Regions from separate parts of the Homo sapiens genome. Here region 2 is linked to region 1. The links come from fine-mapping of genetic effects on gene expression. A gene starts in region 1. The other region holds a variant in brackets. All regions are shown on one strand. Distances are between the middles of the regions. Region 1 holds the start of EEF1D (eukaryotic translation elongation factor 1 delta). Region 2 overlaps MROH6 (maestro heat like repeat family member 6).

Region 1 (5,353 bases):
CCAGCCTCAGTGGCCCCACCTCTCTGGGGTCCTGGTTCTCCAGCCACCGCAGAGCTGTTTCTAGCCCCCGCACGGCCTCCCCGGCAGTCGGCACTGAGGTCCCTCCATAGTCGGTGGCCTCCTCCTCGTCCTCTCCGCCCCCCATGGCAGAGGGCAGACTGGCTGGGGCCGGAGGCGCTGCAGGGGGCAGGGCTGGGCCCACCTCCTCCCTGCAGCCCTCGGGCGGACCCCCATCATCGTCCAGGTGCAGCCACTCCGCAACCTCCTCCGGAGCCAGGCACTTGTAGGCCAGAGCCGCCAGGTGGGTGAGGTCGCTGAGCACCCTGCTGTGCTCGGCGGCTTCCTCGGCCTGGGCCGGCTGCCCAGCACTGTCCTCGCCGGGCCGGGGCTCGAAGGCAGCCCGCAGGCCCAGCAGCCAGCAGCGCTCAATGCTGCCCGCCTGCACCAGGTCCCAGGAGAGGCCAGCCAGGTAGAGCATGTCCTTGAGCATGAAGCTGCGCATGAAGTCCAGCGGGGAGCCGCTGGCGCAGGACACAGCCAGTCGCAGCAGCTCGCGCTTGTACAGCTGTTTGAAGGCGGCCACCACGCCCTGCTCCAGCGGTGCGGGGATATGTGCCCGGCTGCTGCCTTTGGACAGGAACAGCACCCGCACAGCGCCATCCGGTGTCTGCAGCTCCTCCGGGGGACCGAGGGGCTCCGGCCTGCACCGCACGGGGGCATCCTCGCTGTCCAGGGCGGGCATACTGGCAGCTGGGCTTGGGCAGGGCGGGTGGGCCACCAGCAGCACGGCCTTCTGCTGCAGGCAGCTTCGGCGCAGGTAGCGTTTGACGCCTGGGACAAATTCCTCAAAGAACCAGCCCCGCAGCAGCGGGCGGCTGAGCCAGGCGTCGGGGCTGTAGCGGTAGGAGGCCGGGAACTTGTCCTGGTTGTGGTGGCGCAGGCTGGGCGGGTCCGGCAGCCGCCCGATGACCAGCGGCTTCAGCTTGTGGCTGCCGGTCAGGTTTGCGGCCAGCAGCACCGTTACGCGGTCGCCCCGCCAGCGCCGGCCACAGCCCCCCGCCCCGGGGTCCCCTGCGCCCGGGGGCGCAGCCTGCTCCGGAAGCAGCTTCCAGTAGAGGCCGGTGACGCTGGCGCTGTAAATCTGCTCGTCCCCGTAGCCGCCCTCGGCCGGGGGCGGCGGGGCCGGGGCGCGGTCGGGCAGGGGGCCGGCGCCGGAGGGCAGCGCGGGCTCCTCCTTGACGGGCGGGCCGGGCGCGGGGCTCGGGGCTGGGGGCCCGGCCTCGCCGTAGAAGCGCTGGCTGGAGATGCCGTGGCGCTTCTGCCAGCGCCAGAACCAGCCGTGGCTGGCCTTGAAGGTGCACTCGGGCCCGTAGATCTGGCGCGCGAAGGCCTCGGCCTGCGCCTGGATGAGCGGGCCAGACAGCGGCACCCCGTGCTGGCGCAGCGCCAGGAACCAGGCGTACACGGCGCGGTCGATCTCCTCCTCGTTGGCCAGCCGCATCTTCTTGCGCTGAGTGCCCACCTCACCGCCCAGCTGCTCCAGGAACCAGCGCAGCTTGGGCTCGTCCTTGAGCCAGCCGCGCAGCGTCCCGCCCGGCACGCCGAAGTCGCGGCACACACTGGCCTGCCGCTCGCCGCCCTTGACGCGCTCGATGGCCTGCAGCTTGTCCTTGATGGAGTAGGCCTTGCGGAAGGCCATCTTCACGGCCACGCGGGGCCGCGGCCCGGGCGCGGGGGGCGGCGGCCGTGCAGCGGGGACGGGGGCTGGGGCGGGCGCGGGGGGCCCGGGCAGGGGACGGCGGCCGCGGCGCGGTACCGGGCCGGCCGGGGGGCCCGCGGGGTACATGGCTGCGGCGGGGGGGACCCGGGCCGCGCGGGTCGCGGGAGCCACACGCCCAGCCGCTCGGGGCGGGGCACTCGGGGGCGGGGCCGCACGGGTCCCTCCCCTTTGTCCCGCAGCTTGGCGGGCGCACGCGCGCTGACCTAGCCCGGCCCGGCCCCGCCCCGCGCCTGCGCGCTGGCCGCCTCGTGCGTCACTCGGCGCTTGCCGGCTGCCGGACCCGCCCCCACCGGCGACACCACTGGCCGCGAAGCGCAGGGGGGGCGCGCGCGCTGCCGCCCGTTCCCAGCACTTGTGCAGACTCCTCCGGGGAAGAGCGGCCTCCGCGGTCATCTCCAACGGAATTCTGCCTTTGAAGTGTCGGGGCACGGCGCGTCGAGGGTCCTGGCGGCCAGGCGGGGCGTGTGCAAGGGTCGCGTCCCCCCCCCGGGCCCCCGGCCCGTGGCTCTTGGTAGAGCCCAGTGCTTCATTTCCCGTGCGCGGCCCGGGCGGCCCTCCCTTTCATCAGTCTTCCCGCGTCCGCCGATTCCTCCTCCTTGGTCGCCGCGTCCTTGGCTGGCGTGTGAGTACCGCGGCCCCCGCCGGAAGGAGTCGGGCGCGACAGAGACGCCCGAGGGGCCGGGAGGGCGGGCGGCCCGGGCTGCGCCAGAAGCTCGCGCCGTTAGGGACTGAGGCACAAGTGCGCCAGCGCGGGCTTAGGGGCCGTGGGCCAAGTGCGGCACTTGGGGCGAGCGCAGAGAGGCGGGGCGACGGAGGCCACGTGGCCGGCTTGGAGGGCGTCCGCGGGACGGGGGCGCCGGGAGCACTGTCTCACGGCGCATCCCGGTCGTGGAAGCCCCTCGGCCAGGCTGCTGGGGCCTAAGGCCTGTGTTTGCTGCCGTCTCCGTGGGAGACCAGACATCTGCCCCAGCTGTTTCTCTGGCCTGCAGACCTTCGTACACCACGTCTTTGTCAAGCACCAGTTACTGCACGCATCAGCTGAGCACGGAGGGGATAGGCACGGACGCAACACTTTTGGAACTTAGACGCTAGTGAGCACGGAAAGGAATAAGCCTGTACTGTGACTGGGTCAAAATTTCTGTCTCTTGATTTGGATAGGGTGGTCGGGCAGTCTCTGAAGGGGGCGGGGATGCTGTTGCTAAGAAGTAGTACTTTCAGAGGCTTTAAGTGGAAGGAAGAAGGCAAAGGGGGCGGAGTGGGTTGGGGACCTGATGAGACGTCAGGATTGGTTTCCAGAATGAAGGACCGCCTGGCAGCAGAAGAACTGTGTAGCTAAACTTGGGGTTGTCCCTGCCCGACAGGGCGGGGTGCTTCTTAAGTTGACACTGCCTGCGGCTCACCTCCCAGGGAGGCAGGCCAGGCCATCTCACCTGAGCAGCCTCCTTCTACAGCTCCGCCCACCCCGTCATCTGGACCCCATGAGCCTTAAGCAGCTGGCTCGCAGGCAGTTGGTTACTTCCGGAGCCCGTGTGTGCCCAGCCCCGTTCTGGGGGTGGGGGATGCAGCTGAGGGGCTGGGCAGGTGTGGAAGGAGCCCCCGAGCGTCCTCTGAGGAAGTAGACGCTCACCTTCGCCTTCTCACCACATGCCTCAGGCCCAGCCAGGCTCCTAGACCTGCCTCTGTAGAGGCTTTCTGGGCGCAGTGCCAATCCTGTGAGACAGCAGCATCTCCCCTGGGCTGCTGCAGGGTTCACACGCAGTCAGTGCTGGCAGAGTGAGCGCCCAGCCGACAGAGCCCCCGCTGCCTCCCGCCTCCTCTGGAGGACTAGGCCCTCTGGGCTTTGCTCCCGGGTTGCTGGGTGAGGCTGCAAGGTTTAGCACAGGTGGGCACACGTGCTTGATGATGGACAAAGAGTACCTGGGCTGTGCCGTGCACTGGCGTCAGCCTTCTGGGGGCTGAGGACAGGAAATGTGGCATTGAGGATTTGTGGGTCATCATCCTGTGCCAGTGTGTTAAGGTGACATCAGCGTGTTGGAAGCTGGTGGCAGTGAGTTATGCTAAGTGCTGGTGTAGGAGCCTGCCACAGGTCTCCAGCTCTCCCACCTCGCTGACAGCCAAGGGTGCCGTGTGAGGTGTGGCGTGGGTATTGTCTGGGGTTCCAGAAAGCCTGTGCCGTGCTGGAGTCACCCAGGAGGCACAGGGGCTGCGCCGGGCAGGCAGGTCGGCCAGAGCCCCTCAAGCAGGGCTGGCCATGGAGCTGGCCTGCAGTGGCATTTAAGAAAAGACGTGGTTGGGGCGGGGCTTGGCCTGGGGCAGGGTGGGTTGGGTAGCTACAGTGAGTGCTCTGAGATATGCAGGACAGGCTGGCGTTTCCCAGTGGGGCTGGAATATCCAGGGGTCAGACAGGAAAGTGGCTGAGTGGGAATGTGGAACTGTGGAGTTTTTTCTCTTAAAAAGACCAAAGGCGGCTGGGCGTGGTGGCTCATGCTGGTGATCCCAGCACTTTGGGAGGCCGAGGCAGGCAGATCATGAGGTCAGGATATCGAGACCATCCTGGCCAACATGGTGAAACCCCGTCTCTACTAAAAATACGAAAATTAGGCTGGGCGCATGGCTCATGTCTGTAATCCCAGCACTGTGGGAGGCCAAGGCAGGCAGATCACCTGAGGTCAGGAGTTCGAGACCAGCCTGGCAAACATGGTGAAACCCCATCTCTACTAAAAATATGAAAAAATAGCCAGGTGTGGTGGCACACGCCTGTAATCCCAGCTACTTGGGAGGCTGAGGTAGGAGAATTGCTTGGACCCGGGAGGTGGAAGTTGCAGTGAGCTGAGATCGTACCACTGCACTCCAGCCTGGTGACAGAGTGAGGCTCCGTCTCAAAAAAAACCCAAAAATTAGCTGGCCGTGGTTGCGCATGCCTGTAGTCCCAGCTACTTGGGAGGCTGAGGCAGGAGAATCGCTTGAACCGGGGAGTTGGAGGTTGCAGTGAGCCAAGATCGCGCCACTGCACTCCAGCCTGGGTGACAGAGTGAGACTCCGTCTCAAAAAAAGACCGAAGGCCTCACTCCACGCAGGAAGACATTGATCTGTCCTGTGGCTGCTCTGCCGTGCGGTGGTTTTGCCTAAAGACCCGCTTCCTCAGGGGCTCCAGCCTCTTTTAAGGGCTAGTCGTCGCGCCCTTTGGGCACTGAAGGTACTGAAAGTTCTATCAGGCAGTGCCAGTCCACAGACTCAGGCCAGCCAGGTGGGCCGGAGAGGGGTGCTGCTGGGAGGGGTGGGCGTGCACAGGCTGAGCCGGTGGCTGACCCCGTCCCCTGCCCACCTCCCTGACTTCTCCCTGTGGAGGGTGGACAATCTGGGAGCCTGTCTGTGTGTGCGACTGTGATGGGGTGGCGTGGAGGGCAGGGCCTGGGAGCCAGCTCCTCCCAGAAAGCTTCCGTTTGCCCAGATGTGTGGAGACCTCCAGGCCGTGCAGCACCTTGGTGGCCACAGCTCTCCAGGATGTCCTCACCTTCCTCAGGGCCCTGCCCTCCTGACCTGGAGTGTTCTGGGTAGGAGTCTGCCGGGGCT
Region 2 (5,353 bases), 28 kb after region 1:
GGGGCTAACGTGCCTGGACACCCCTGGCTCTTTGGTTAATTGGCCCCAGAAGTTATCTTTGGTTTTATTCTCTGTGGCAATTTTTTTCTTTTTAATAATGCCAGGTTTGTTTCACTGTCGCTGACCCAACGGGACTCCCAGTGGGTCCCCACCCTGCAGCTCAGCTTGAGATAGGCTATGTTGTGGTCTGCACAATTAACCCTTCATTTGTTTCTCTGAGATTTGGGGATGGGGGGAGATGGGAGGGGTTTCCTGCCCCTCCCCTGCTGGAGTCCTACTGGCTGCCTCCACCCTGGCTGGGGACTCCCTACATTCCCTGGACACCCACCCATCTCTTGTCTCACACCAGCCCCCTCCAAACCCTCAGGGTAGCAGCCGAGCTCTGGCGCAGCCTAAGCCGTAACCAGCGTGTAAATGGGCAGGTGCTGGTGCAACTGCTGTGGGCGCTGAAGGGTGCTTCGGGGCCGGAGCCCCAGGCACTGGCGGTAGGTGGCTCCAGCCATTACCAGGGGGTGGGGGCGGGGGTGGGGGGTGGCGAGGAGCGGGGAGGATGGGCATAGGGAGTTTGCACCTAGGTAACTGCTCCTGGAATGTCCCATGCGTGTCTGAGGCTGTCCCCATCCTGTTGACAGCACGCCTGTCCCTCTGCTGCCCAGTGCAGCTCCAGGCGTGCCCCAGGCCTGAGTGGGCCACTTGCTCCACAGGCCACACGTGCTCTTGGGGAGATGCTGGCTGTTTCGGGCTGCGTGGGAGCCACGAGGGGCTTCTACCCACATCTGCTGCTTGCGCTGGTCACACAGCTGCACAAGCTGGCCCGCAGCCCGTGCTCCCCCGACATGCCCAAGATTTGGGTTCTGTCCCACCGAGGGCCACCACATAGCCATGCCAGGTGAGAGGCAACACCAGGTTACGTGGGGCGGGCCAGCATGCTGTCACCCTCTCAGCTCCCACTGCCCACCTGCTCACTGTCCCCACCACCAGCTGTGCTGTGGAGGCCTTGAAGGCGCTGCTCACCGGGGATGGAGGCCGCATGGTGGTCACGTGCATGGAGCAGGCAGGAGGCTGGAGGAGGCTGGTGGGAGCCCACACCCACCTGGAGGGCGTCCTGCTGCTGGCCAGGTGAGGAGGGTGAGGAGGGGCCCCAGGGTGTCACACCAGGAAGAGAGTCGTTGCTGGCCAGGTGCTGGGCAGGGGGACAGGGAAAAGGCAGGGGCATGAGGGTGGTGTTGGGATGGGGTCTTCTCGAGGAGAAAGGCCGCCAAACGGAGCGAGAGCTCCCATTTCCACCCACCCCAGTGCTATGGTGGCACATGCCGACCACCACCTGCGAGGCCTCTTCGCAGACTTGCTCCCTCGGCTTCGCAGCGCGGACGACCCGCAGCGTCTCACGGCTATGGCCTTCTTCACAGGGGTGAGCCTGCTTCCCGGATGGGTGGTGAAGGGTGACCCTGGACTTGATCCCTGAATCGCAGCGGCCTGCACGGGGACCGCGGGCGTGCTGACCCCATGTGCCTCGCCTAGCTGTTGCAGAGCCGGCCCACCGCACGGCTCCTGCGGGAGGAGGTCATCCTGGAGCGACTCCTCACCTGGCAGGGAGACCCCGAACCCACTGTGCGCTGGTTGGGCCTGCTGGGCCTGGGCCACCTCGCGCTGAATCGCAGGAAGGTGTGAGAGAAGGGGAGGGGTGGAGAGGGGCTTGGCCCGGTCGCGGCGAGGTCTGCAAGAGGCTGACCCCGAGTCCCAGCAGGTGCGGCACGTGAGCACGCTGCTGCCGGCGCTCCTGGGCGCACTGGGCGAAGGCGACGCGCGGCTCGTGGGTGCAGCGCTGGGCGCCCTGAGGAGGCTCCTGCTGCGGCCCCGGGCGCCTGTGCGGCTCCTGAGCGCGGAGCTGGGACCGCGCCTCCCTCCGCTACTGGACGACGTGAGCAAACGCCCCGCCTCCGGGTCCCGCCCCTGCCGCTGTCACCGCCCCCGCCCTTCCAGTCTCTCCCTCCCAGGCCCCGCCCCCGTCTCTCCCGCCCAGGCCCCGCCCTCTCAGGCCCCGCCCCGCCCTTCCAGTCTCTCCCTCCCAGGCCCCGCCCCCAGTCTCCCTCCCAGGCCCCGCCCCGCCCCTCCTGTTTCTCCCTCTCATGCCCCGCCCCGCCCCTACAGTCTCTCCCTCCCAGGCCCCGCCTCCCAGGCCCCGCCCGCCCCTCTAGTTTCTCCTTCCCATGCCCCGCCCCCCAGTCTGTCAGTCTGTCCCTCCCAGGCCCTGACCTCCCAGGCTCCGCCCCGCCCCTCCAGTTTCTCCCTCCCAGGCCCCGTCCCCCCAGTGTCTCCGTCCCAGATTTCTTCCCTCCTGACCGCCCCCGCCCCTCCCGCCTGCTGTCGCCCAGCTCCGCCCCTCCAGGGCCGTGTCCCGCCAAGCTCCTCCCCGCTCGACTTTTCCTTCCGGACCCCATCCCTTCAAGCCCCACCCCCTGCAGGGGCTCTCCAGGCTTCCCAACCAGGTCCAGCTCCAGGCCCTGTTCCCTGTCCCCAGATCACACCGAGTCAGCAGCCTTCCCTAGACCCGCCGCTTCCTCGCTCCGCGCTGGCCGCCCCCTCCCACCCTTGCAGCCCCTCTCTGTCTCCGCCTGCCCTGACTGCGCCCTCCCACGCAGACACGGGACTCAATCCGCGCCTCGGCCGTCGGGCTCCTTGGGACTCTGGTGCGCCGGGGCCGGGGCGGGCTCCGGCTGGGGCTCCGCGGCCCCCTGCGGAAGCTGGTGCTGCAGAGTCTCGTGCCGCTGCTGCTGCGCCTGCATGACCCCAGCAGGGACGCTGCTGAGGTCAGCAGCCCCCGACACCATCCCACCCCTATGCCATCCAACACTCACCACTCCCACCGTGCCTCCCCTCCGACAATTACAGGTCAGGGACTCACCCATCCCAAGGACCTCAGTGGCAGGTGTGACGGGCGGCCAGGTTACTACTGCTCTTCCCTTGAGCAGAATCAATCC[A/G]GTCTCCTGCCCTGGGCTCTTCTGCCCCTCACCCGATGCCCTTGCTCCCCCTCTTCCCACCCCACCTTTTGCCTTTCTACTTCCTGGACCCCTGACCCGGCTCACTTCCCCTATCCCAGAGCTCAGAGTGGACCCTGGCCCGCTGTGACCACGCCTTTTGCTGGGGCCTGCTGGAGGAGTTGGTCACCGTGGCCCACTATGACAGCCCCGAGGCCCTGAGCCACCTCTGCTGCCGCCTGGTCAGTAGGGGAAGCAAGGTGACCGCAAGGGGGTATGATCAGCAGCCCACTTGTTCCAGGGTTCACCGGGGCCCCCAACCGTTTCTACTGCAGCCAAACCAGATAGGCTACTGGTGGGGCAAGTCCAAGGTCTCCGACCATGCCACCTGCCCTGGGGGCTCCCCTGGAACCCCGGCCCCTGGATTCAGCTCTGCAGCCTCCTCCGCACTCAGGATCAGCCCTCCTGTCCTGCCACTAGCCCTTTTGTCCCCAGGTTCAGCGATACCCAGGCCACGTGCCCAACTTCCTGAGCCAGACCCAGGGCTACCTGCGGAGTCCACAGGACCCCCTGCGCCGGGCAGCCGCCGTGCTTATAGGTGAGGCCGCCCGGGGTCACACTGCCCCTGGCACCGGGGCTTTGGGAGCTGGGCCAGCCTCCCCCTGGGGGGCTGTGGGGCCTGCACTCATGCATCTGCTGTGGTCCAGGCTTCCTTGTCCACCACGCCAGCCCCGGCTGTGTCAACCAGGACCTGCTGGACTCCCTGTTCCAGGGTGAGGCCCCACCTTGCCAGGGGATGGTGTCCTGGAGACGTGGCTGGTGCTAGGGCGGAGTGGACGGGAGCGGTGGGTGGAGGGCCAGGGGCCCGGGCACTCGGCCCTCCTGGGCTCCCCAGCCTGAGCCGCGATCTCCTCGCAGACCTAGGGCGACTGCAGAGCGACCCCAAGCCGGCTGTGGCCGCGGCAGCGCACGTGTCCGCTCAGCAGGTGGCGATGCTGGCCCGTGCCCGGGGCTGCCCCCGCGGGCCCCGCCTTCTCCGCATCGCCCCGCGCCCCGCCCGGCCCCCACCAGTCTTCGCCGACAGCCCCTTCCAGCGCCGGAGCGTCGCGGGCCGCTGGGGCTGCTCCGGACCCCGCCGAGCCTGAGGCTCGGGGCTGGGGCCCGAGGGCCAGGGTCCGACTCGGGCACCCCACGCGCATAGCAGCCTGTCCCCGCCCTGACGGAGGGGCTCCCTGGGCCTGGTGCTGGACGCCAATGCCCTCCCCCACCCCCCACCCCCGTGACCCCTCTTCAGGCACCCACCACCCTGATGGTGACAGAGGGGGACAGCCAGCACCCATCTGTCCCCGTCAGGGCTCTTGTTCTCACAGCCCCCTGGAGCATGCCCCATGCCCCAACCTTGGGCCTGGCTCCTGGCCCAGATGGCACCTGGCCTCTTGAGTCTGCTGGGGGACCCCAAAGTTGGTGGTCCCATAGCCTGCCCTCCTGGGTCTCCACCTCATGCCTGGACAGGACGCTGTGGCCTGTCCGGGCCTTGGCCAGCCCTGCAGCTGCACCCCCGATCCTCATCCCTCACCCCATTCCCTGCCAGCATCCTAAGGCTCCTGGCGGGCATCCTCTCTGCTCAAAATTATTGACCTGTCTCCCGGCCACACCTGCTGTGCCCTCTCAGCCAGGCCATCATCACCCCCTGTTCATTATGTCAGGCCTCATGGGAGCCTGGCCTTCTCCAGAAGCTGGCCCCGGCGTCCTCCCAAGCTGGACCACGTAGGCCCCAGATCACACCTGGGGGTCCAGATGTAGGGGTCCTGTGTGCACGCCCAATCAGACCGAGCACTTGTGACACTACCCCAACACCTCTCCCAGGGCTGAATGAGGAACGCGCCACTGGACACATGAGGAAGAGGCTGCTCTGGGAGCTACTGATGCTGTGACCTCACCTCTCTGGCTTTGGGCGGCAGGTCCCTGCACCTAGGATGCCTGCCTGGAAATGTCCTTGCATTCGTGGCCTCCTTCACAGCCTCCTCCTCAGAGAAGCCTCTGCGAGTGCACAGGGAGTGTGTGCAGCCTTGTGAAGGGCTGGGACCACTTGCCCAGACTGGGGCCCCTCAGGCACAGGCGTGGGGTCCTACTGACCTGTCTCCCCAGCTCCCACACAGAAAGCATCTAAAATAAACACACGTGGATGGAAAGCGTTGGGCATCTGTTTTGAGTGTGGTTATGGGAGCTGACCCTGGTCCAAGATCTGGCTCAGGCTGGGGTAATAGGCCATAGTCCCTGATATGGCCCCAGGTAGAGTCAGTTTGGCAGCAGGGTTAAAGGTCAGGCAGGCTCCAGGCACAGGCTATGGCCAGGTCAGGTTGGGTTAACCCTAA

The links.
Region 2: its variant is fine-mapped to the expression of EEF1D in whole blood (TOPMed, PIP above 0.99).

Annotation. Positions count from the first base shown.
Region 1 is chr8:143,594,397-143,599,749 of GRCh38, reverse strand. EEF1D (eukaryotic translation elongation factor 1 delta) reads left to right here and starts at 2,335. Exons shown (of 10, transcript NM_001130053.5): 1 at 2,335-2,402. It overlaps TIGD5 (tigger transposable element derived 5), which reads right to left and starts at 1,919. Exons shown (of 1, transcript NM_032862.5): 1 at 1-1,919. The coding sequence starts at 1,846. RefSeq lists an enhancer at 3,088-3,687.
Region 2 is chr8:143,566,009-143,571,361 of GRCh38, reverse strand. MROH6 (maestro heat like repeat family member 6) reads left to right here. Exons shown (of 14, transcript NM_001100878.2): 4 at 368-485; 5 at 705-889; 6 at 982-1,119; 7 at 1,297-1,411; 8 at 1,522-1,665; 9 at 1,748-1,921; 10 at 2,643-2,810; 11 at 3,101-3,220; 12 at 3,474-3,576; 13 at 3,686-3,751; 14 at 3,897-5,170. The coding sequence ends at 4,123. Among named protein-coding and RNA genes, the nearest start is that of MROH6, 4.1 kb to the left of the region's middle. RefSeq lists an enhancer at 1-81. The variant A/G (reference allele first, on the strand shown) is at 2,982.